Homo sapiens: one gene and its partners. The protein of the gene in region 6 purifies or fractionates together with the protein of the main gene of each other region. This does not show direct contact. Each region holds a gene or a part of one and is shown on either strand. Other genes may lie near its edges.

Region 1 (3,500 bases), on a different chromosome or scaffold from region 6:
TTTTAAAGAAAAGCAGGCTGGGTGCGCTGGCTCACACCTGTAATCCCAGCACTTTGGGAGGCCAAGTCATGTGATCACCTGAGGTCAGGAGTACAAGACCAGCCTGGCCAACATGGTGAAACTCTGTCTCTACTAATAATACAAAAATTAGCTGGGCATGGGGACAGGCACCTGTAATCCCAGCTACTCGGGAGGCTGAGGTAGGAAAATCGCTTGAACCTGGGAAGCAGAGGTTGCAGTAAGCTGAGATCGTGCCATTGCACTCCAGCCTGGGCAAGAAGAGAGAAACTCTGTCTCAAAAAGAAAAAAAAAAAGAAACAAGGAAAAGGAGAAAAAGAAAAAGCAGTATATTATTCAAGAAATTTTCAAAAATTGATTAAAAATACAAATCCCCATACATAGAAAGCATGATGAATCATGAACTGGATACATAAAAGAAATCCACATCTCTATTTACCAGATTATACAACTCCAGAGGACACTATCCACAGAGACACCACACAGATGGTGTGTTCCCTGGAGGTGTGCAACGCAGTAGCCCTAACAGTGAAACTGCAGAACACCAAAAGCAAAGAGAAGGTCCTAAAAGGAGCCAGAGAGAAAAGACAGACTAAAAAGGCACTAGACTGAGGTTGGTTTTTCAATAGCAACAATAGAAGCAAGAAGAAAGTGGAATAATATCTTCAATAACATCCTGTGAATCCATAAATATTTCAAAATAAAAAGTTAAAAACATTCAAGAGCTAATACACTGGACACATCAATAGCATGGAATCCAGGAGGGGTAATCAGAGATTAAGTGTTCTAAGGCCTTCATATTGTTTAGAAGGAAATTAAACATACAGATTCACAGCAGGGTGCAGGGGCTCACGCCTGTAATTCTAGCACTTTGGGAGGCCGAGGCAGGTGGATCACCTGAGGTCAGGAGTTCGAGACCAGCCTGGCCAACATGGTGAAACCCTGTCTCTACTAAAAATACAAAAATTAGCCAGACATGGTGGCGGGTGCCTGTAAACCCGGCTACTTGGGAGGCTGAGGCAGGAGAATCACTTGAACCCAGGAGGAAGAGGTTGCAGTGAGCCTGAGATCACGCCATTGCACTCAAGCCTGGGCAACAGAGCAAGATTCCATCTTAAAAAAAAAAAAAAAAAGATACAGATTCACTTTATATTTCGTTAAATTAAATGTTAAAAATTTAGAGTAAATATTAAAAGAATAGAAATCAAATAGAAACCAATAAAATGTGGGGGGAAATTAACATAAAAAATCAAGAAATAAGGGGGAAATACAGAAAAAGACACATAGGAAACATAAAAAAAGAAAGATATATAATAACTAAATCCATAATAAAAATAAGTTGGGTAAGCGCTCAATTCAAAAGACAAGATTTTCAGTTTGCATACCAAATCTAGCTATGTTTTTTTCTTTGTTTGTTTTGTTTTTTTTTTTTTTTTTTTTGAGACGGAGTCTCGCTCTGTCACCTAGGCTGGAGTGCAGTGGTGCAATCTCGGCTCACTGCAAGCTCCGCCTCCCGGGTTCATGCCATTCTCCTGCCTCAGCCTCCCAAGTAACTGGGACTAGAGGTGCCCGCCACCATGCCCAGCTAATTTTTTGTATTTTTTAGTAGAGATGGAGTTTCATTGTGTTAGCCAGGATGGTCTCAATCTCCTGACCTCATGATCCACCCACCTTGGCCTCCCAAAGTGCTGGGATTACAGGCGTGAGCCACCGCGCCCGGCCTAGCTATGTTATTTTTAAAGAGACATACCTAAATATAAGGTATGAAAGGTTTCATTGTTTTATTTGTTTCATTGTTTTATTTATTAAGGAAATCTTACTTTCTTTAATTTTATAATAGTTCTTTTATCAGGTTGACCAGTTTCCTCCCATCTTCTTATTCTTTAGGAATGATTTAGTTATTCTTGCCCCTTTGTATTTCCACATACATTTTAGAATCATTTTGACTTATTTTACATCCACTGAAAAGTTGAGATTACATTAAATTTAAAATTCATTTTGGGAAAAACTGAAATCTATACCTTCAAATCTCCCTATCCATAAACAAAGTATACCTCTTTTGTTTCAGAACTCTGTGTATTAGCCAAAGATCGCAGCATTTATTCATAGAAAACAGCTAAGTAGAAACAGTGAGTTTGAGGTGTTTGAATTTGCCCTACCTATCCCCATTCTTCTCTCTCCAGCTCTATGATAGTCTTAGAAACCCACAGCCCACAATCACGATGAAGACCAGCAACCTAGGAGCCGCTGGAGGGGGCAGAACAGGTTGGAGCTCCTTCAAAGCTTCATGCTCAGAAAACTGTCATTATTTAGCCTGGCCAGTAGTTCCCTAGAAGACCCTACTATGAAAGCTGTCTTTTTTTATTCTTTGTTTGTTTTTTATTTGAGACGGAGTTTTGCTCTTGTTGCCCAGGCTGGAGTGTAATGGCGTGAACTCAGCTCACTGCAAACTCCACCTCCCGGGTTCAAGCAATTCTCCTGCCTCAGCCTTCCGAGTAGCTGGGATTACAGGCATGTGCCACCACAGGCAGCTAATTTTGTATTTTTAGTAGAGACGGGGTTTCTCCATGTTGGTCAGGTAGGTCTTGAACTCCCGACCTCAGGTGATCCACCCGCCTCAGCCCCCCAAAGTGCTGGGATTACAGGCGTGAGCCACTGCACCCAGCCTGAAAGCTGTCTTTATTTGACCTTACTCAGAGCCTGCCCAGTATGAACAGCCTTTTCCCCAGCAGCATCTGTTAAAAAGATTTAGAGGTGCCAGGCGCAGTGGCTCACGCCTGTAATCCCAGCACTTTGGGAGGCCAACGCGGGTGGATCTCTTGAGTCCAGGAGTTTGAGACCAGCCTGGGCAAAATATTGAGACCCTGTCTCTACAAAATAATTTTGTAAAAATTAGCTGGGCATGGTGGTGCATGCCTATAGTCCCCGATACTCGGGAGGCTGAGGCAAGAAAATTGCTTAAGCCCAGGAGGTCGAGGCTGCAGTGAGCCATGATCACACCACTGGACTCCAGCCTGGTTGACGGAATGAGATCCTATCTCAAAAACAAAAAAAAATTTACAGGCAATTGTTGCACATTGTGGCTGCCGAAGCAGTAAGTAATAGCTGGTGACCACAATAAACTAACAAAAATGCTGAAAAAAAAGTTAGAGAATAAGATGTCCACAGTGAATTGGAAAAGCTCCAAAATATACCAGGGTATCTACAAGCCCAATGTACATGTATAGGATGTGCTCATACCCAGGGCTGTGCATTTGCTCAGGAAAGACTTTAGAAGGGGCTGGGCATGGTGGCTCACGCCTGTAATCCCAGCACTTTGGGAGGCTGAGGCAGGTGGATCACTTGAGGTCAGCAGTTCGAGACCAGCCTGACCAACATGGTGAAACCTCGTCTCTACTAAAAATACAAAATTAGCCAGGTGTGGTGGCGCATGCCTGTAATCCCAGCTCCATGGGAGGCTGAGGCAGGAGAATTGCTTGAAC
Region 2 (3,500 bases), on a different chromosome or scaffold from region 6:
CTGACCTTGTGATCCACCCGCCTCGGCCTCCCAAAGTGCTGGGATTACAGACGTGAGCCACCGCGCCCGGCCGTTATTCTCTCTTAAGACACTAAAGAAAAAAACAAGTTACTGAATCATGTGCAAGTGGAATGCTATTCTAAGCAAAGGAAATAAAAACAAAGGGCGGCAAAGGGGGGAAGATTGAGGATGTAAGGAAATGCTTTGCTCATATACCACGGTGACTGTGCAAATTGCATTTTTTTCAAAGGATAATTTGGCAACATGTATCAAAATACTCAGAATCTTTTGACCCTACAATTACACTTCAAGAAATTTATTCTAGTGAATAATCAGAAATGAGTGCAAAAATTTAACAGGAAAAGATGCATATTCATATATTATCTATAATAGTGAAAAATTACAAACAACCTAAGTGACCAACAGTAGAGGATGGTGTTCAATAACTCACATTCTCTCAAGCCATTAAGTAGTATTGTAGAATATTTCATGACATGGAAGGTTGTCCATTATAGGTTATTCAATAAAAAATAAGTTCCAGGTCGAGTGCAGTGGTTCTGCCTGTAACCCCAGCACTTTGGGATGCTGAGGTGGGAGGATCACTTGAGTCCAGGAGTCCAAGGTTGTGAGCAGTAATCATGCCACTACACTCCAGCCTGGGTTACAGAGCAAGACCCTGTCTCTAAAATAGAAAAAGTTGTAAAAATAGTATTTTTTTTATAATGACAGTGAATTCAGGGTATGTTTGTCCATTCTGTATTGAAATAAAGGAATATCTGAGACTGGGTAATTTGTGAAGAAAAGAGGTTTATTTGGCTCACAGTTTTGTAGGCTGTACAAGAAACATGGTGTCAGCAACTGCTTCTGGTCAGGACCTCAGGAAGCTTCTACTCATGACGGAAGGTGAAAAGAGGGCCAGTGTGTCACATGGTAAGAGAGGGAGCGAGAGGGAGCAAGAGGGAAGGGAGAAGGTGCCAGGCTCTTCCAACCAACCAGCTCTCGTGTACTAACAGAGCAAGAACTCATTTATTACCGCAAGGAGGGTACCAAGCCATTCATGAAGGATCAACCTCCATGACCCAAACACCTCCCATGATACCCCATCTCCCACATTGAAGATCACATTGCAACATGAGATTTGGAGGGGACAAACATTCAAACTATATCAGAGGAAAAGCATTTCTTTTTACTCCTTCCTAAAATCCCACTAAAAGGACAAAATAAAAGGAGGAGGGAGACAAAAAAACCTACTCAAGTCACACACAAAAAACTGGGAGTCAGAAAAGTTTTGGTGTTTTTTTAGCAGCAATATTGGAAGCTAGAGAAAAACTGAGCACTATTGTCAAAATTCTGAAGGAAAGTGATTTCTGACCTAGATTTCTGAAGCTAGAATAAAAAATAGTGTTCATACTATAAAGTGGTAAAAAGTTTGCTTCCCATGTAATTGTCTCATGAAGCTACTAAAGGACATGCTCAAGCAAAGCAAGGGGCTAAGCCAAGAAAGAGGGAGCAGGGGACACAGGAAACAGGGAATTCAACAGGAGAGGGGCAAGTTAAGATCCTCGGGTGAAGACAGGAAAAGAGGATGTCCCGTCCAGGTAGGGCAAGTGAGAAGGCTCAAGGGAGACTTCTTCAAGAAGATGAAAATGCTGTGTCTGAACATATGGAGGGGACATTTAGAGAGCCAGAGAAGAGTTGGGTTGAAATAGCAATAAAAAGAGAGAAAACTAAGCAAAGGAAAAACATAAGACAATGATTTAACTGTAAGGAATCAAAAAGCTGCGTAGGAAAGAAAATCTATTCATAGTACACCACATGGCTCAGCTGTAAACATTATCTACATAGTTACTACAATGTAAACACTGAATACTGAGTAAATAAAGAATATGGTCTAACTGTATGGAAGGGATGGGGGGATAGGAGCCATGTGTTGAGGAGTGGATGAAAGGGAGTTAAATTCTCACCTTCCATAATGAAAAACCAATAGATATGGAGGTAAATTCCAAAAGATTCATCTGAAGAGTTTAAAGTACTACCCATGGGAAGGGAAAATGAGAAAAAGGGTTTCAGGGTGGTCATTGTTTTTCCTATTAGTCCTTATAAAGCTATTCAACTTATTAAACTACAATATGCTTAAACTTCTGTCAAACAAAAACTAAAATGAAACAAAACAAAAATAAATGATTACAATCCACCAGCCCCCATGTCATGTTCCCTCCATCCCAGTATCTGTCATGAATTATTGTAATTACTCTCTAATGTCTGCCTTCCATGAAGTCAGGGACTCTGTCTGCCTTTTTTCTCACTTATTCCAAGTACCCAGTATAGAGCCTGACAGATATAGAAGTTCAATAAATATTTGTGAGATAAATGAATTTTTCTTTAACAAAATCAATGTACAGACATAGGAAAGAGAGTAAGGTTCTATAACAAAATGTCAACAGTAGTTCTCATTTAGTCATGAGATTATGTATCCTTAAATATTTTTCAAACATTCTTTAATTGATGTGCATTACTTTTGTAGTTAAAAAGTCATTTTAAAATCTATTTTTACAGACAATGTTGGGAAGAACTACGAGTTTCAAACCTGAGAACACCTCATGGCAAAATATAATCATTTAAGCATCTAATTTCATAAGAAAACCTAGGCTGCATTTATTGTGACTGAACTTAAAAAGATGAAGTGATGGCCAGGCACAGTGGCTCACGCCTGTAATCCCAGCACTTTGGGAGGCCGAGGTGGGCAGATCACTTGAGGTCAGGAGTTGGAGACCAGCCTGGCCAACATGGTGAAACCCCATCTCTACCAAAAGTACAAAAATCAGCCGGGCATGGTGGCAGGCGCCTGTAATCCCAGCTACTCGGAGGCCAAGGCAGGAGAATTGCTTGAACCAGGTAGGCAGAGGTTGCAGTGAACCGAGATTGCGCCACTGCACTCCAGCCTGGGCGACAGAGCGAGACTCCATCTCAAAAAAATAAAAAATAAAAAACAATTTTAACCCCCCTAAATTCAGATGTATGGGCCCAAGTAAAAACAAACAGTACATCATTACATCTGAATCTCTTCACAGCTGTGCCTCCAGGTGACACAAGTCTGAACCCACTGGCATTTCCTACCCTGATGTTTAAGGCATTGGCTTTCACAACAAGCTGGCCCTAGCAAAGCAATTTACTTGCAAGGAAGTTTGTCTTACAATTGCTACTGCTCCTGAGAATAAATTTGTCACATGTGGCTACTGCAGGTATCTATGTGTGTTATTCGAAGGCCATTCAAAGCTCACCATTGTAAAGCACAAATCCTGTTGTTTGAAGGAGCACCGGAAATATTAAAGGTGGCCATACATAATAGCACAAATAAGAAGTTACCTGTGGCTTTCTTCAAGCTGTTTCGAGGCCGAGCCGGCGTGGGGCGGAGGGTCTTCACGGGGTCTTTGGGACCTTCTTGGCAATCTCCCCCTCTAAAGCCAGGACAGCACCTCCATTCCAACTGTGTCACTGTC
Region 3 (3,500 bases), on a different chromosome or scaffold from region 6:
TAGAGTAGACTCTGAGGGAGAGGTGATGTATTTCATGTAGGGCACCTTGGGTTTGAGAAGCCCATGAGACCTCTGGTTAGATGTATTCAATAAACAGTGTAATATGAGTTTAGAACTCAGGGCAGAGATCTGGGAGTAGATATAGTCTTGAGAACATAGAGGTTTTACGAGAGGCAGCATAGAGTAGTAGTGAAGAGCTCTTATCCCTTCTGATAATCTATATCCCCCTCAGACGCAAACCAAAAGATCAGTCTGTTTCATTCATTCACCAAATAGTAATTAGCTACCATAGAGCAAGAACTGGACTGAAATCTGGGCACGTGGCAGTGGATCACAAGGTCCTTTCCTCATAGAGCCAGACTGCTCAGGTCTGAATCCCTGCTTCACCACTTGCTAGTTGGGTAACCTTGGGCAATTTGTTTAACTTCTGGGCCTCACTTTCTATGTCTGTAAAATGGGGTTAGTACTCATCTAATGGGGTTGTAGTACATGAGTTAGTAGTAGTAAACTGCTTTGAACAGTGCCTAGCACATTGCAAGTTCTATTTATGAACTAGTTATTATTAGTTATAATTATTAAGGCTTTAAGTCATAAGTGTAGAGATGCTTGCCTGGGAAGAATATATAGAATAATAAGATTGAGGATTAAGTACCATGATCCCTAGGGAATGTGCACCTCAAAGGGTTTAAGTAGATGTTCAATAAATACTAGCACTCTTTGCTACCCTTCCCTTTTCTTTACTAGCAGTACTTGTCTGGCACAGAAAAATTGTCACTATTTTCCTGTTAGCCCATTTTAAAAAGAAATATGCTTGAAAATATCTAGTTTGTTGTATTTTTTCTTTGTAGTCTTTTAAATAATTCTCTTTACTTTTTCGCCTCCATGCACACCCACTGTACTTTTGTCTGTTGTATTCTTTCCAGCCATCCAACATATTCTTTACAATGGATGATGTGGTCAAGGTTGGAGACTTTGGGTTAGTGACTGCAATGGACCAGGATGAGGAAGAGCAGACGGTTCTGACCCCAATGCCAGCTTATGCCAGACACACAGGACAAGTAGGGACCAAACTGTATATGAGCCCAGAGCAGGTGAGTTTTTCAGACCTTTACTTACTAGCACAGCAGCAGATGTACCTGATGAATCTCTTCTCATGTTTTCATTAAAATACCCAGTAATCTAAAACCCAGTAAGTCTGAAAATTATGAAAACTGGCAGTAGTGTTCCAGTAGTGGAATAGTGACACAGCTAAGATGTAGTTTCTACAACCTGAATTGGGGCTGGATTAAGAAAAATACAACACATAAAATGCACTCACCCCCTGAACAAGCACCTGACAGCAACCAGGAATTTGGAAAGAGACTTTGAATGCCACCCTCCCAAACTTAACTCGTTTGCCTTGTGTAGACTGTGTTGGAACTGTTTTCAGAGCCAGCTAGACCCAGAGGTACTATACTGAGCTGCCCTTTGTGGTCACTCATAGGCAACTTCCAGCATGTACCACAGTAGGAAATAGAGGCACACAGGCCGGCAGGTGTTGCCTTGTGGGCTGCTTGGCCTTCACAGGAAAAGCACTGTAATCAGGGCAGGGACTGGAAGAGCTGGGGGAGCAGGGCATCCTGGAAGCATCAGGCGAGCATGCTCAGCCACCACCAGGCAAATGATCTTCACAAGCTTCTCTATGCTTAGAGCAGCGGGTCTCGGACGTTTTGGGCTCAGTACATACTTACACTTGTAGAAATAACTGAGAACCCAAAAGGTTTTCTTAACAAAATTTTATCTATCGATATTTGTTATATTAGAAGTTAAAAGAGAAATTTATAAAACTTTATTAAATCAACTAAATAACAATGAAACCTATCACATCTTAAGATATTTTTATGAAAAATAAGTATTTTCTAAAACAAAAAAAAATTACAGGCACCAATTCCCCTGCAAAAAAAAAAAATTAGAGTGACATTTGTTTACATTTTTGCCAGTCTCTTTAAAGCTAACTTATAAAAGTGCTACATTCTTCTATCTGCTTTTGTGTTCAATCTGTTGCAGTATGTTATTTTGGCTGAAGTACATGAGGAAATCTGGCCTCGCACAGATATGTAGTTGGAAAAAAGAGCAATATTTCATTTCAAGTAATTGTAGATATTTTGTCTTTGATAGTATATCAAAACTTAGTAAATGATAGTTTCTTAGAAGTCATTTACACTGTGGAATCTAAAACCATTCATGAATATTTTGTACTCTGGTACTTTTAACATCCCTTGGTCCATTTTGTACTTTGAATGGATCTTTTTACCCATGCTTGACTTTACATTGTGCATTAGTCATTTGGAAACTATTGGTTCCCTAAGTTTGGCAACTATTCCAAAAGTCATCACAGTTCATTATGTAATATAAAAAGTCACTTTGGTTAATACAACCACCAATCTCACCAGAAAAGGCTTTATGTACATATTAGGAGGCTATCAAATTCCCACTGGTAGACTGAAATCTTCCAAAATTTTAATTTTCACTTAAAAGCTCAACTTTTAACATTGGCAACAAATACTGTTAGTTTTCCTTGAAATGCCATTCTCACATTGTTCATCTTTTTTTCTCTTTAAAAAAAAAATGTTGTTTGTTTTTTTTTTTGAGATGGGGTCTTGCTGTGTTACCCAGACTAGTTTTGAACTTCTGGCCGCAAGCCATCCTTGAACCTCAGCCTCCCAAAGTGCTGGGATCACAGGCGTGAGCTACCATGCCCGGTCTCATTGTTCATCTTTAAGAAAGTGTCCCTCGGCCAGTCGCAGTGGCTCACACCTATAATCCCAGCACTTTGGGAGGCCGAGGCAGGCAGATTACCTGAGGCCAGGAGTTCGAGACCAGCATGGCCAACATGGTGAAACCCCGTCTCTTGTAAAAACACAAAAATTAGCTGGGCATAGTAACGCATGCCTGTAGTCCCAGCTACCCAGGAGGCTGAGGCACAAGAATTGCTTGAACTTAGGAGGCAGAGGTTGCAGTGAGCCGAGATTGCACCACTGCACTTCAGCCTGGGTGACAGAGCAAGACTCCATCTCGAAAAAAAAACTCTCTGTCAAGTATCCAAGTCTCAATAACTGTAGTTTGTCTACCAATTATTCTTTCAAGTCAAAATGGTGTTCTATGAAAAGAGCAGCTAGAGCATATTGTAACTCAAATAATTGCACAAATGCTAATGATACTCACAAGCTAATCTATGCTTACATCAGCAGGTCTCAACTTCTTAAAATTAGTTTGTTTTTTAAATTGACTCATAATTGTACATATTTATGGGGTACATACTGTCGTTTTAATACATACACTATTTAGTGATTGGATCAGGGTTATTAGCATATCCAAGGTATCAAACTTGGAGACAACTATTGTACTTTGGTATGGAGCATAAATGTTTTTCTGAATATTTTCCATTTTGTCAGATTATTAAAAAGGTGTATATTTAAAGGTTGAGATTTAATAAATTAATAATTTCTACTGCTAAGGAC
Region 4 (3,500 bases), on a different chromosome or scaffold from region 6:
AAACTACAGCATTTAATGAGACAATGACACAACAATAAATTCTACATCATTCCTAGTTCTGGAGCCCAAAATGAACGTTCTATGAGCAATCAATCATCACTTTAAGTCTGTTCCTTATCTTTAAAAACATTTTTTTTTAAATAGAGATGGGGTCTCACTATGTTGCCCTGGCTAGTCTTGAACTCCTGGGCTCAAGCGATCCTCCCAGCTCAGCTGCTCAATGTGCTGGGACTACAGGCATAAGCCAGCTCATTAAAAAGCCACATTAAAACGCCTTTAAATGTTTTTACATCTATTGCTACATTCGTTTCAAACTGGCTTTCTCACTAAGGAATAGGGTATGGCTTTGACTATTACTAAGAGATCTCTCAAAAAGGGAAAGGTAAGAAGAAATAAATAAATATATATAACATTTCTTCTTACCTTTCCCTTTTTGAGAAAGGTTATATATACATATTTATAAATCGGCATTCCAAGTTAATTGCTATTTTTAAAAAATCTTCAAGACAGATGAATAAAACAAAGGTTTTTGCCAAAATGAGTAATTTTACAGTATTTCATCACATTTAATTCACATTTTAGCATACAAAAATGAAATTATATGAAAAGAAATATACACATTTTTTCAAAGAAATCTCCATCTTAGTAGAAAGGGCCAAAATTTCTGCTTGGCTTTCCAAATGCCTCATACATAGATTTACCTAAAACAGTCACCTTATTTTCCACTACCTCATTTCCAAAGAACACATACTGTTACAGTGAAACCAATCTCCACTCCAACCTGGATCAGCCTATAATCATTTTTAACTCCATCCTTTTTTCAGTTATTCTCTGTGCCTATCAAAGCCACATTCATAAGCAGAAATACATTTAAAGTTGTATATTCTTCAGGAAATCTTCCTAAATGGGCCAACCTGCTCACTTCCTTCCCATCAAAATTCACTTAAAATACAACTGTGCATTCATTTATCTGTTTTTTCTGTTGTGTTTGCTGTATATTAATATGAATTCCTAACTAGAAGCACTTCCAAGACAAGGAATTCTTCTTGTTCTTACATTATTACTTAGATGCCAAGCACCACAGTCATTATTCTCAACACACGCTTATTAATCTGTGCACCAGAAATAAATAAAAATATGCTATATATCCACCATCCACTCAGTCTAGTACATATAATCTTGCCTATCCAGGCAGTTGCACATACTTGTACATAGTGGACACTCAAAAAAATGTTTGTAGGTTGAGTGAAAGTAGATTGAATGCATGCACAAATGATGAATAAATAAAGGGAACTCTTTATAAGGTATAGGAAAGTGGGGAACTACAGAAGGATGTGAATGATCAATCTGAAACTTTAGACCTTAAATTCATAAGGGCCATATATTCATCAGAACACTTTCTGCTGCAATCCAATTCAAACCAATTTACACAAAAAATTTTGGCACAAGGACTGAGAAGGACACCAGGATAGTTCACAAAATCAAAAGAAAAGTAGGTACCACTTACCATGTTCCCTGAGATTGAAACTGGCACTACCACCATCCATCTCCCATCTCCTTATGGCTTCACTTTCTCCCACTACACAGATGCGCTTTTCATACACGTGGTAAAGAATGCCACCAGCACCTTCCCAGATTAACAATTTCAGAGAAAAGGTAGTATCTTTGTCCTAGCATTCAACCATAAATTTCAAAAAAAGGATTCTGACTGGCTCTGCATGAGTAACAGCAATCACTGTTGCAATAGGGATGACCAAGCTCAGGTTATAAGACAGTAAGACTGACGGACAGCCCACCAACCACTCAGAATAGGGGAGGGGTGGTTCTCTAATGAAGAGATACTGAGTTGACAAAAACAATATATGACATGTCTTTTACCAGCCACAACCTTCAACAAACCAATATTAATCAGGAATTGACGATAAGCTTACTACATTTTGAAATTATCTGACTTTCCTCATGAAATGAGACCTATGTGAAGCCCACTTAATTTTCTGAAACTTCACATCATGTACCTTCATTCTAATATTCTGACACTTGTTTCATGCAGCCATACCAGTCACAACTTTAAATTTTTAGTCAGACTTTGCTCACAAGTTTTCAAGATAAATTAATACAAATCGTTTTGGTCAGTCATCACACAGCAGTCTCCTATTTACTTCACTACAACTACAGCTTTCATTCTTCATTACATTACTTTTTCTGAGTAGTCTGGGTCAAATAGTACAAACTGAATATTCCTTAACCAAAATGCTTGGAAGTAGGCCGGGAGCAGTGGCTCACCCCTGTAATCCCAGCACTTTGGGAGGCCAAAGCAGACAGATCACTCAAGGTCAGGAGTTCTAGACCAGCCTGGCCAACATGGCGAAGCCTCGTCTCCACTAAAAATAAAAAAAAAATTAGCCAGCCATGGTGGCATGCGCCTATAGTCCCAGCTACTCGGGAGGCTGAGGCAGAAGAATTGCTTGCACCTGGGAGGCAGAGGTTGTAGTGAGCCGAGATCGCGCCACTGCACTCCAGCCTGGGTGGCAGAGTGAGACTCCGTCTCAAAAAAACAAAACAAAACAAAACAAAAAAGCTTGGAACCAGAAGTGTTTCAGATTTCAGATTTTTGTGGATTTTGGAATATTTGCATTACTTACTGGCTGAATATCCAAAATCCAAAATGTTCCAGTGATGATTGCCTTTGAGCTTCATGTCAGCACTCAAAAAGTTTCAGATTTTGGAGTATTTTAGATTTCAGGCTTTTAGATTTGGGATGCTCAACCTTTAGGAAAATTCTTAGCATTCAGAATTACTTTATCTCTTCAGGAATAACACAGTACCCATGTGAATCTCGTGGTAGGAAGTCAAACAAATATTATATAGGAAAAAGTTACTTAATGACATAAACGATAACGTGGTACCTCAACTCAGCTCTACTGCTCTCTACTCAATGTACATTATTTTCTGACAAAATAAAAATTCATGCCTTTGTAAAAAAATGGCCCTGAACAGAAATCCATTTGCTGGTGAAGTTCAGGGAAGAACACGGTTATTATGATAATTAAAGCAATACTGTAAGGTGGTATAGTCTATGTCAGCTATTTCAGCAGTTACATAAATAATCTTATTCCTAATTTACGGTCATACTTATGTGTATACTTACTGCATTTAGAGGAATTTTATGATACTGTGGTATCCAAGAATCTTAGCATTTCAAAGATCCCAGGACCTATCCAACACAAAGAGTAGGAGACATCTGTGTTTTGAGGGTAGAAAAAACATGTTTTTTTACATGGGTACAATATTTTCCACTACATTTCCAAAGCTTTCCTTATAATACCATAGATTTGTTGGCATATTTTTCCTCCTTTTTTGTCTACACCCAGACATTCACATGACTGTCTTCAAGAAACCAATCATAACACTATAGTGATTCCCAAGTCCCTTTCCTGATTCATAATGAAGATGCTATTAGTCATAATATAAACACATATCAGATAATTTTTCTTTAGGTA
Region 5 (3,500 bases), on a different chromosome or scaffold from region 6:
CCTTTATAGACTGCATATTACTTTCAAATATATACTACTGCACTTGTAAAAGTACACAGTTGATCTAATCACGCTCCTGCTCAAAATCCTCGACAGGTTCTCTGAGGCTTTCAGGATATTAGATATTAGTGCCTCTGGGGAGCTCCCCAGCCCCCTGTGCTCTCAGAGCCCTTGTACTTGTGCCCACCACAGCTCTTATCACAAGGGGACATGATGTCTCTTTGGCTGCCTCCCTCCCATCGGACTGGGGCAACTTGGGAGCAGGGGCCGGGTGTCCCTCATCAGAGTCCCCATGGACCTGGCTTAGAGAAAGTGGTGGGTGAACGTCTATGGAATGCACGAGCACGAACAAATGAAGAAAAGCAATACACTGCCTTAGAAAGAACCAACACTTAAGAATGAACTGGGAATGCAGAGCACTGTGAGCTCAGACTATTTATTTCATGTCTTTATTTTTCAATTTTTGACTCTGTGCAAAGGTACCAATGATAGGTGCCTGACCTTAGTTTAACTGGAATGTTTTTAAGATTTTTCTTGTGCAAATATTAAGTAGGGAGGCTGTTTTATTAAAGATGCTCATTCAGAATGAACCCACCAACAATGAATGAACTAAAGAACCCCCAAGGTTTTGTTCATAGGCATTCATTAGCTTTTCCCTGCTATACACACATGGAGCTCAGGCTACAACTGGCTGGGCAAGCCCTTTCTTCCCCAAGAGCTCACAAAGAGAGCCATCTGTCCAGTTCCAGGTGGAATCATCTCACGCCTGTTTTCCTGGAGCGAGAATCAATGAGGCTTCCCTGAGCCTCTCCTCCTCCTGGGGTTTCCATGGGAATCCTCCCACGCGTGACTGAGCCAGGGGCCCCCAAGGTGCAAGCTGGGCTGTCAGCCAGCAAGGAGAGCAGCAAATGGGATGAAGGAGGTTTGCTAGGCTGTGACCAGGGCAGCAAGCTCTGCAAGGTCATTTGAAAGAGACATACCACTGAGACAGCAAGGCCACGTGCAGTCCGGGCCAGCCCGGTCACCACAGCTGCCCCTGAGCCCAGAGGCCTGCCCCAGGCACATGTGGAGGTTGTTTGCAGGGCAGCTGGATTCCCTGAGGCCCAGCATGTCTGGGCTGGGTCAAAGCATGAAGGGAGAAGATGGGAAGGGTACCATTTAATGAAGCCCTCTGGGGAAAACGATGATGAAAACATGATAAGGTTTGCGTCCAATCCCTCATTTACCTCCCAAGATGAACCTTCTCCACTTGGTATAACTGGTTGTCTGGAAACAGAATGCCTAAAAGAAAAGCAGAACTATTCATGCCTCTGGCTTGAGCCAGGTCATAATAGGGACCTGCTGGGATTTCTGAAGATCCCTCTGTTAAGCCTACAGTATCTCTGGGGGCATTTTTGAGATACTAAGGAGGAAAGGAGAGAGGATGAGAGGAAGAGAGGAGAAAGGGAGCAGGATCGGGGAGGGAGCTGCTCCAGCCCCAGGAATCTGTACAACTTGCACATTTCATAGAATGCAGATAACAGGTAGATGTCTCCTGAAGGTAGATAACAGGTAGAATGTCTCTGTGGCCAGTAAACCGGGCCAAGGCCCACTCACTTCTGGAGAAAGCAGAGCTCCAGTTCACCATACATGACATTTCACAACATTAAAGGTCAGATGGATGACTTTGGCACTGCTCCAGCGTCTCCCACCACACATACCAGCACATTGAAGTGTAGAGCTTACCACAGCAGCTTTCCTGCCTCCTCCTGGCTCCAATGTCTTCCTGCCTACCCCATCAATGGGGCACCCCCAAGTCCATTGCTTCAACTTCAGTTTCCGCTTTTCACTCTCTCTCTCCATGCATCTTCTCTTATGACCTGCATCTCCAGCCCCGTGCAGACACTCTCAAGCCGGGTCTCCAGTGCTGCCTTCTCTCCTCAGCACAAGACCTACCTACTAGAAGCCCCTGGTCAGCCCTGCCTGGGTGTTGTTTCAAATGACCTTGTAAGGCCAGCTGACCTCTTTCCATCATAAGCCTCCTACCATGGGCACACCCACACTCTCAGCCCTGCGGGACATCTGTGGTCCATGTGCACCTCGGAATCTGCAGGTCCTAGGCTGAGCCTGGCCTCTTCCCTCTCTCACATGCCAGGTTCCTCTGCATGTCACTGTTCCTGCCATGGATCCCGTCTCTTGGTCCCCACCACTCAACCCCGTCAGCTTTCCCCTAGTTCAGAACTTGCCTGGATTACTCCACTGGTCTCTTAGCAGGCTTCCCTGACTCCACTGTTTGCCCGCCAACCCACTCTCCATGCTGCCAACAGGTAAGTTGGACCAAGACACCCACCAATCTCTTCATTCAACCCTCCAGGCAGCTTCTCCAGAGAGAAGCTGCACCTCTTTGCTTGGCACCCAGGGGCCCTCCAGGCTGCTCTTATTTCTTCCACACTGTCTGTCATCACGGCCCACCTCAGACCAGTCATGCCAGACTCTCCTCGTCAGCACATCCTGGGACTCTTCCCATCTTCTCTGACCTGGCTGACATTCTCTCACTCCCCTGCCCCTTCTAGCAGAAGCAGAACTGGGCACCCCTCCGTGGCAGCCCCTCAGCCCACTACATCCTCTTCCCTCCGCCCCATTATGTCCTCTTGCCTACGTCCCACTGCACCCTCTGCCCTCCAACCCACTTTGTCTTCATCTTAGCTGTTGATTCCTGCTGCTATCTCTTGCACCACATCTGCATTTCTTAATGGAGCCAGTGCCCAACCAGCCTTTATCTCCAATACTCGTACACAGCCTTGTACCTGTTACCTCTGGCTGCATTAAGACGTGCTTGTCAGACTGAAGAAGGACTAGCCACTCTATACCTCCTGCATGGTTTGCATTTTTTTTTTTTTTTTGAGACGGAGTCTCGCTCTGTTGCCCAGGCTGGAGTGCAGTGGTGCCATCTCGGCTCACTGCAAGCTCTGCGTCCCAGGTTCATGCCATTCTCCTGCCTCAGCCTCCCCAGCAGCTGGGACTACAGGCGCAAGCCGCCACGCCGGGCTAATTTTTTGTATTTTTAGTAGAGACGGGGTTTCACTGTGTTAGCCAGGATAGTCTCGATCTCCTGACCTTGCGATCCCCCCGCCTCGGCCTCCCAAAGTGCTGGGATTACGGGCATGAACCACCACACGTATACATTTTAAATGGAGTAAGTTCTGAACTCAATGTGTGAAGCAAAAATCACATGCAATCAACACTGCTTAGGAAAGTTCTTCTAAAGTTCCACACAAAGTTCATGATAACTGGTTTGAGGTATACCACCTCTTTCCCAAAGGGCACACCACCCACAACTGTTTTTCCTATAGCCTCAAAACAAATCCCTATTTCTTGAACTGATCAGCAGCAAATAAATTAGTTGGCTTATGTAGGAACCATGTTTTATTAAAAACGTGTTGCTGGTTTAAAAATTTTTTATAGTTGATCTTTTCTTACCACAGATGGTCATGTTCACATAAATCAAGAGTACATACTAT
Region 6 (3,500 bases):
GCCACGTGAACCATGTAGGAAGTCTGTTGGAAAACTGGGGCATTATCGTTGACGTCGGAGATGTGCAGGGTGACAATTATGCTGGAGGAGAGGGGCGGCTTGCCCCCGTCGGTGGCTGTGATGGTGAGATTGTATTCTGGGATCTCCTCCCGGTCCAGAGCGCCGTCTGTCACTAGTTTGTAATAGTTCTTTGAGGAAGATTTCAAAATAAACTTGGCATTTCCCAACACTTGGCAGTAAACTTCTCCATTTTCTCCAGAGTCTCTGTCTCTCGTTTTTATCAAGGCGATCACTGTTCCTGGTGGCGAATCCTCCGGTAGGGGAGTAGATACTGAAGTCACAATAACTTCAGGTGCACAATCGTTGTCATCAAGAATTTCAACTTGGATACTGCAGTGGGCTGCTAGATCTCCAGGATCTTTTGCTTCGATACTCAGAGTGTAACTACTTGCAATCTCAAAATCCAAATCATCCTTTGTCGTGATTTCTCCTGTTTTTTCATTTAAGTTGAAAAAGTGTTTCACTTGTTCGTCCACATTATGAAAGGAGTAGGTGATCTCTGCGTTTATGCCTTCATCCCGGTCGGTGGCTGTCACTTGAAGCACAAAGAAGCCCGGCGGCACGTCCTCCCTCAGGGTGACCCTGTACACGTCCTGGCTGAACACTGGAGGGTTATCGTTGGCATCCGTGACTTTGATTCGGATTTGGGTCGTGCCACTTTGAGGTGGGTCTCCGCCATCCACAGCTGTGAGGACCAATTGATGTAAACTGTGCTCTTCTCTGTCCAGAGAGTGTTTTAGAATCAACTCAGGATATTTACGACCATCTGGAGTCTGTTTCTCAGCGAGATCAAAGTACTCGTTGTCATTAAGGTGGTATCTTTGTAGTGAGTTAGGACCAACATCTGAATCCAGGGCTGGGTCAAGTGGAAATGTTGTACCTGGCTTAGTGGATTCGCCAATTTTTAAATTAATCTTAGTCTGTTTGAATAGCGGGGTATTATCATTTATATCCTGCACAATTACTGCTATGTAGAAAATATTTAGTGGATTTTCAGCGACAGTATCGAAATCCAGAACACACAGAGGCTGCTTCCCGCATATCTGTTCTCGGTCTATTCTGTCACTCACAAGTAAGTCTCCGCTTTCTGGGTTTACTGTGAAATATTCCTTCTCCGCGCTAACCCGCAGCTTCCGGGCTGGCAAGTCCCGGACGCTGAGCCCCAGATCCTTGGCGAGGTTTCCTACGACCGAGTTTTTGGCCAGCTCCTCTGGAATTGAATAGCGGATCTGGACTGGGAGAGCCCCGGGGAACAAAGACAACAGGAAGGGCAACAGTACCTGCAGCCACCGCACCAGCCCGCACCTCCCTGAGCTCGCTTTCATCTTCTGGCTCCCTTTGCTCCTTTGCCCATAGGAGGAATAAGCCTTCCGGGGATGGCAGAATCCGGGCTAAGGTCACTTTTCCTGCTTTTGTTTTCTGTTTCCGAATCTATACTGGCCTTCTCTGTGTGGTTGGTTTGTGCAGGAAGTTCCCCTCTAAGAGGCTCCCAAACGCTTCTCTTCGTTCTTTTGACCAACAGCGACGCTCAGAGGTTTTCTCAGGAAACTGCACTAATGGCTTGTCAATATTTGCTAAGAACTTTTTTCTTTTCTTTTCTTTTTTAATTTATAAAGTCTTCATTTGTTTTAAAATATGTGAAATATTCATATAGTTCCAAATTCAAAAGATGCATTCAGCATAGGTTCTTCCTTTCATCTCTGCTTTAGATGAGGAGAAATGCTTTCACAGGGGAAATGAGTGTTAAAGTTTCTTAGGTATCCTTCCGGAGATATGTCTTGTATAGGGCAACGGATTTTTATAAATATTCTGTCTCCTTCTTTACACAAATGTAAGCATACAACATACCATATTCTGCACATTGCTTTTTTAGTTGTTATATCTTAAAGATCATATCAGTACATAGAGAGCTTTCCTATTTATTTCTTATAGTTATCTAGTGGCCCATAATATAGTTATCTAGTAGTCCGTAATATGAATATACAACAATTTGTTTAATCAAAATTGTTATTTGCTAAAAGAAACCCACTGCCCATTCTAACAAAAACACATTTTTTAAAAAATTTGATTTTAGGTTATAAATTATCTACTGCTTTCCTAGGCCTTTAAAACATGTGGCACTCTCATTCTGGAATATATTCCTAATGCCAACACCTGAATATGCTTGACACAGTTTCAGACCAATTGAGCATTTCCAAATTATATTTTATGGCTTAATTACTTTAAACAATCTCTCCTCAGATGTAAGTTGTCTCTCAACATTCACTTGTTATTTCTGCTTTCTGCTCCCCAAGCCAGGTAACTGCATCATATCATATTCCAGCTTACTCTATGTATTGCACCACAACTTTCTATGAATACAAAACCATGTAGAAACTAAAACTCTCCTTTGTAAGTCAAATTGAGGCATATTCCACAGTCTATCACTACAACTTCCAGTTATCAAATTACACTAATTTGTGTAAGCATATGCATTCATGAATTTTGAATTCTCACAGAACCTAAATGAAAGCACAAAGAACAAAAGTGTTGTATATCCCCTACACACAAAATATTTTCCCTCATATAAAATAATCCCAGAGCCACATGATGACAGAAATATCTGAAAGCAATTTGTAGCAATAGGGATGAGGCCACCTTACTAAGCAGCGTAAATCATATCAGTCCAGAACCCAAGTAACTCAACCTTTGAAAGAGGCTCACATGATGACAAGAGAAAAGACTCCAAAAACTTATATTTTCCTTGGAAATCAAGAAAGTCTCAATAGTGATGTCATGATAAGCAATTTAAAAATTATTAAAGTTACTCCTAGAATCTACTTATATATGACTGAAATTAGCTTGGAAATATTTCTCATAATCACAGGAGTGCACCAGAGGAATCACACATAGTCACTTCTGGTGCATCTCAGAACAGCAACAAGAAAATATTTGAAATATACCAGTTCATTGAGAAAATATCCTGTTAAAGTTATATCTAAAAGTTAAACTCACAAATTGCCAGTATTCTTAAATTGACGTTGCCTGTTATAATGGAAAATACCCTTTCAAGGAAGGAAAAGTAAACTTCAAGCAAAGCATGGTAGAGTGTGAAAATAGGAAATTAAAAAACCCTCAGTCCAGATCCAACAATAGCTTCATGAGAAAGAATATTGTAAATGTGAATTTACACAATTGCCTTCTATTTTACAGGTCTCTTGTATCTTTTCAGGAACACCTAAGAGAAAAGGAAATTTATTCTTTATTTTACTTTATTTTATTTTACTTTTTGGAGACAGAGGCTTGCTCTGTTGCCCAGGCTGGAGTACAGTGTCATGATCTCAGCTCATTGCAACCTCTGCCTCCCAGGTTCAAGCAATTCTCATGCCTCAGCCTCCAGGGTAGCTGGGACTACGGGCACACACCACCACGCCTAGCTAACTTTTTGTATTTTAGTAGAG
Region 7 (3,173 bases), on a different chromosome or scaffold from region 6:
TGAATCCAGACTGGTCTGACTTCAAAGCCTTGCTCTCTTTCCACTGCAATATTCAAAATCAAAACAAAGGTTTTTGTTAGTGATTCTCAATGTTGTGATACATTTTTTACCTGCTGTCCCTTAATAAATGATATTAAAGTTGCATTTGGAAATACAGAAGCAGTATTAATGTCACTGATTGTAGTTTTAATTGTCATTAACATTTTATTTGTCTTGTAAACTCTGATTCACATGAGTTTGAAGACTCAGGCTATATCAATAATGATCCCAATTATCTTTGAGAAAGTGTCACGTAGTGCCTGGGACAGTGCTGTGGGCTGATAACTAGTGAATTTAACTGAGTATTACAGTCAGGAGAATCCTATCTTGCCCGTGACCCACAGAGAGGCAGTGGGCAAGTCACCTTACCCTGGTCTCCCAGTCCAGATAAATGCTTTCATAAGCTCTAAGGTCTCTTCATGCTCTAAAATAATTATTTAAAAACTCACTGAAATACTTTGTTTCAATAAGGAATATTTATTAAGAAGACATGTTAACATGCTTAGATACAAAGTAAAAACACATGCCAATCTCAGTGAACTATAAAGAAAAAAATAAGAACAAAATTGTTTTCAGAGAAATTTTTGTGTTTTATAGGCATCACATGTCCATTTGCATACTAGAAAATTATTAGCATTGATAAACTTTTTTTTTTCAGTCTTAAAGTCTTTTTAAAGTAACTTTTTGGAAATGTGAAGTTCACAATACAAAATTTGCATTGAAGTCTGAATGTAAATTATAGACTTCTCCAAGTGTTTGAGAATAGAAATGTGATTGAAGATTTGCATTCCCAGATGCTGCCTACAGCAGTTTCCTTTCAAGAAATCAAATGTTCTTCATTATCACATGATAAGGATAAGTTTTTGGAGGAAAATTTTTAGGGCACATTAATTCTTGGAGAGTACTATAATTTTTAGTTAATATGAGCAAGTAAATCTTTATGTCAATCACCAAAAATTTAGCTTTTCCAAAGAATATTTCTTCATGCCTGAAAATAAAATTCTATCAAGTCTATGTATTTCTATAATTAGATGTATAAGTCTAATAAGATCATCTAAAATATTAATAATGACAACTACCACATATTGACCACTTACTCTGTGCTAGGCACCAAGCTAAGCACTTCACATACATCATCCCATTTAATGTTTACAGTAACTCAAGTATTAGCCCCACTGAATAAACAAGAAAACTGAGGTTTACAGAGGTTAAACAAGAGCCAAGTTCAAACAATGACTTTGTAAGTGGTTGAATTAGGAGTTTAAGGCAAGTCTGTCTTACTGTGCTACCAAGTCAGAGTACCCGATCACTATATTGTATGCCATCAGTGAGACCCCTGACCTGCTGTGATGAAGCTGAATGCCTAATGACTCCGTGATATATTCACAAAAGTATAATTTGCATCATTAGAATAAGAAGCAAGACCAAGTCAAGTGGACACAAAAATTCCTGCTCATTTAATTATTTTTATTTACACAACTTTTTCCATCATCATGATGCAAATAAGATTATAAATACACAAACACTGGAGTACATGCAACACATTCCACAAAGGAACAAAAATGTACAGCACTACAGAATAGAGAACCCAAATTTTTATATACAAAGTGCTTTAAAAAAAAAGACCTTGTGACATATTCAAACCATATTTATTTGAATACTTTCCAATAATTACCATGGGATACATCATTTATAAATAATATTTAATCTCCCCTATTTTTTCAAGCCAGAATTTGTGTTTCAACTAATCAAGTGAACAGCCATTCCATTATGTAATATTAAAGGCAAGTCACATAGCATCAAAATGAAACCGGTGGGCTTCTTGTCGTTTTTCTCTATCATCTGCTTTCTGAAAAAGAATTTTAGACTCGTTTATAAATGGTAGAAAGATGTTATGAAAAGACTCATTTCTGAAATACACAGTGATTCATTTTTAAAAGTCTCCAGCAATTAGCAGATAATAGATATGATTTCCTAATTCAACAGTCCTAGTATTTTTGTAGTTTATAGTAGCTATTTTATAATTAATGATCTAATTGATTAAAAAACAATAAATACTTGAATACTTAAGGCACATTAAATACTTAGGGTCCTTAAATACTTAGCTTCTTATCATTTATTATCTACTTGAAAATAGGAATAAGTATTAGATTCTATAAGGATGAATCAATGATTGCATTTTTCTGTCATTTTTAACAATGATGTTAATAAACAAATCTAATGGCTGGGTGTGGTGGTGGCTCATGCCTGTAATCCCAGCATTTTGGGAGGCCAAGGAGGGCAGATAACTTGAGGTGAGGAATTCGAGACCAGCCTGGCCAACATGGTGAAACCCCGTCTCTACCAAAAAAATACAAAAATTAGCTGAGTGTGGTGGTGGGCACCTGTAATCACAGCTTCTTGGGAGGCTAAGGCAGGAGAATCGCTTGAACCCAGGAGCGGAAGTTGCGGTGAGTCAAGATTGCACCACTGCACTCCAGCCTGGGTGACAGAGTACTAATGTACTAATTATTTTTTCATTAACTTGTCAATTTAGCAGATATTCATTGGCCCTTTGCTTCTAATACTCCCAATACCAATACTGTGTTTGCTATTTTAATATTAAAAAAACCTCCGTTTTGTATCTTGTTCTCCAAAAAGACAAATGCAAAACATATTGTATAACTGTAGTTCAAGATAAAAAGTGAAAAATGTTACCAAGTCTAAGAGACTACTTCTAGATCCGGGTGAGGAAAGGGAAAGCTTTGAAAAGACAGGGAAAGCATTTGAAAGTATGGAAATGGGGAGAGTGGTATTCACTCCAAGCTGGGGTTACAACATGATCAATCATGAGAAGGCTGGAAGGAGCACGGATATGTGAAAGCAACTGGTAAAAAATACGACTGTGGAGTCACATGGAAGTCATATGCAGGCCAGGCCAAGGATTTTATACATAAAAGGCAATGGATATTCACTAGAGCTTTTTCAGCAGGGGAGTGACATGATGAAGGCTAAACAGAATGAATCACTGGCAGCAGTGTGCTAAATGGAATGGAAAGGGGAGAGAATGGAAAGGGGAGAGAACGGAAAGAAAGAGACCAAGTAGGATGTAAGAAGGGGCAGTGCAGTAGGAATGTAGAAGTGGAGTCAGCTGT

The links.
Region 1: the proteins of PCDHGA4 (region 6) and MELK purify together in Homo sapiens (affinity purification with mass spectrometry; one large-scale study listed by BioGRID and IntAct). This does not show direct contact.
Region 2: the proteins of PCDHGA4 (region 6) and EMILIN2 purify together in Homo sapiens (affinity purification with mass spectrometry; one large-scale study listed by BioGRID and IntAct). This does not show direct contact.
Region 3: the proteins of PCDHGA4 (region 6) and EIF2AK3 purify together in Homo sapiens (affinity purification with mass spectrometry; one large-scale study listed by BioGRID and IntAct). This does not show direct contact.
Region 4: the proteins of PCDHGA4 (region 6) and ZNF518A purify together in Homo sapiens (affinity purification with mass spectrometry; one large-scale study listed by BioGRID and IntAct). This does not show direct contact.
Region 5: the proteins of PCDHGA4 (region 6) and SPSB4 purify together in Homo sapiens (co-immunoprecipitation; one large-scale study listed by IntAct). This does not show direct contact.
Region 7: the proteins of PCDHGA4 (region 6) and ITFG1 purify together in Homo sapiens (affinity purification with mass spectrometry; one large-scale study listed by BioGRID and IntAct). This does not show direct contact.

What each region holds. Positions count from the first base shown.
Region 1 is NC_000009.12:36,659,895-36,663,394, reverse strand, and holds part of MELK (maternal embryonic leucine zipper kinase), read right to left. Parts: intron 1-3,500. UniProt on the Homo sapiens protein: Serine/threonine-protein kinase involved in various processes such as cell cycle regulation, self-renewal of stem cells, apoptosis and splicing regulation. Has a broad substrate specificity; phosphorylates BCL2L14, CDC25B, MAP3K5/ASK1 and ZNF622.
Region 2 is NC_000018.10:2,885,006-2,888,505, reverse strand, and holds part of EMILIN2 (EMILIN-2 precursor), read right to left. Parts: coding exon 3,367-3,500; intron 1-3,366. UniProt on the Homo sapiens protein: May be responsible for anchoring smooth muscle cells to elastic fibers, and may be involved not only in the formation of the elastic fiber, but also in the processes that regulate vessel assembly. Has cell adhesive capacity.
Region 3 is NC_000002.12:88,568,465-88,571,964, reverse strand, and holds part of EIF2AK3 (eukaryotic translation initiation factor 2-alpha kinase 3 isoform 1 precursor), read left to right. Parts: intron 1-923; coding exon 924-1,091; intron 1,092-3,500. UniProt on the Homo sapiens protein: Metabolic-stress sensing protein kinase that phosphorylates the alpha subunit of eukaryotic translation initiation factor 2 (EIF2S1/eIF-2-alpha) in response to various stress, such as unfolded protein response (UPR).
Region 4 is NC_000010.11:96,133,297-96,136,796, reverse strand, and holds part of ZNF518A (zinc finger protein 518A), read right to left. Parts: exon of another isoform or gene 3,215-3,500; 5' UTR 3,149-3,214; exon of another isoform or gene 443-3,148; intron 383-442; exon of another isoform or gene 1-382.
Region 5 is NC_000003.12:141,054,347-141,057,846, reverse strand, and holds part of SPSB4 (SPRY domain-containing SOCS box protein 4), read right to left. Parts: intron 1-3,500. UniProt on the Homo sapiens protein: Substrate recognition component of a SCF-like ECS (Elongin BC-CUL2/5-SOCS-box protein) E3 ubiquitin-protein ligase complex which mediates the ubiquitination and subsequent proteasomal degradation of target proteins.
Region 6 is NC_000005.10:141,358,021-141,361,520, reverse strand, and holds part of PCDHGA4 (protocadherin gamma-A4 isoform 1 precursor), read right to left. Parts: intron 1,528-3,500; exon of another isoform or gene 1,386-1,527; coding exon of another isoform or gene 1-1,385. Other genes in the region: PCDHGB2 (protocadherin gamma-B2 isoform 1 precursor), read right to left, coding at 1-1,385. UniProt on the Homo sapiens protein: Potential calcium-dependent cell-adhesion protein. May be involved in the establishment and maintenance of specific neuronal connections in the brain.
Region 7 is NC_000016.10:47,153,891-47,157,063, forward strand, and holds the end of ITFG1 (T-cell immunomodulatory protein isoform 1 precursor), read right to left. Parts: intron 1,889-3,173; coding exon 1,829-1,888; 3' UTR 501-1,828; downstream 1-500. UniProt on the Homo sapiens protein: Modulator of T-cell function. Has a protective effect in graft versus host disease model.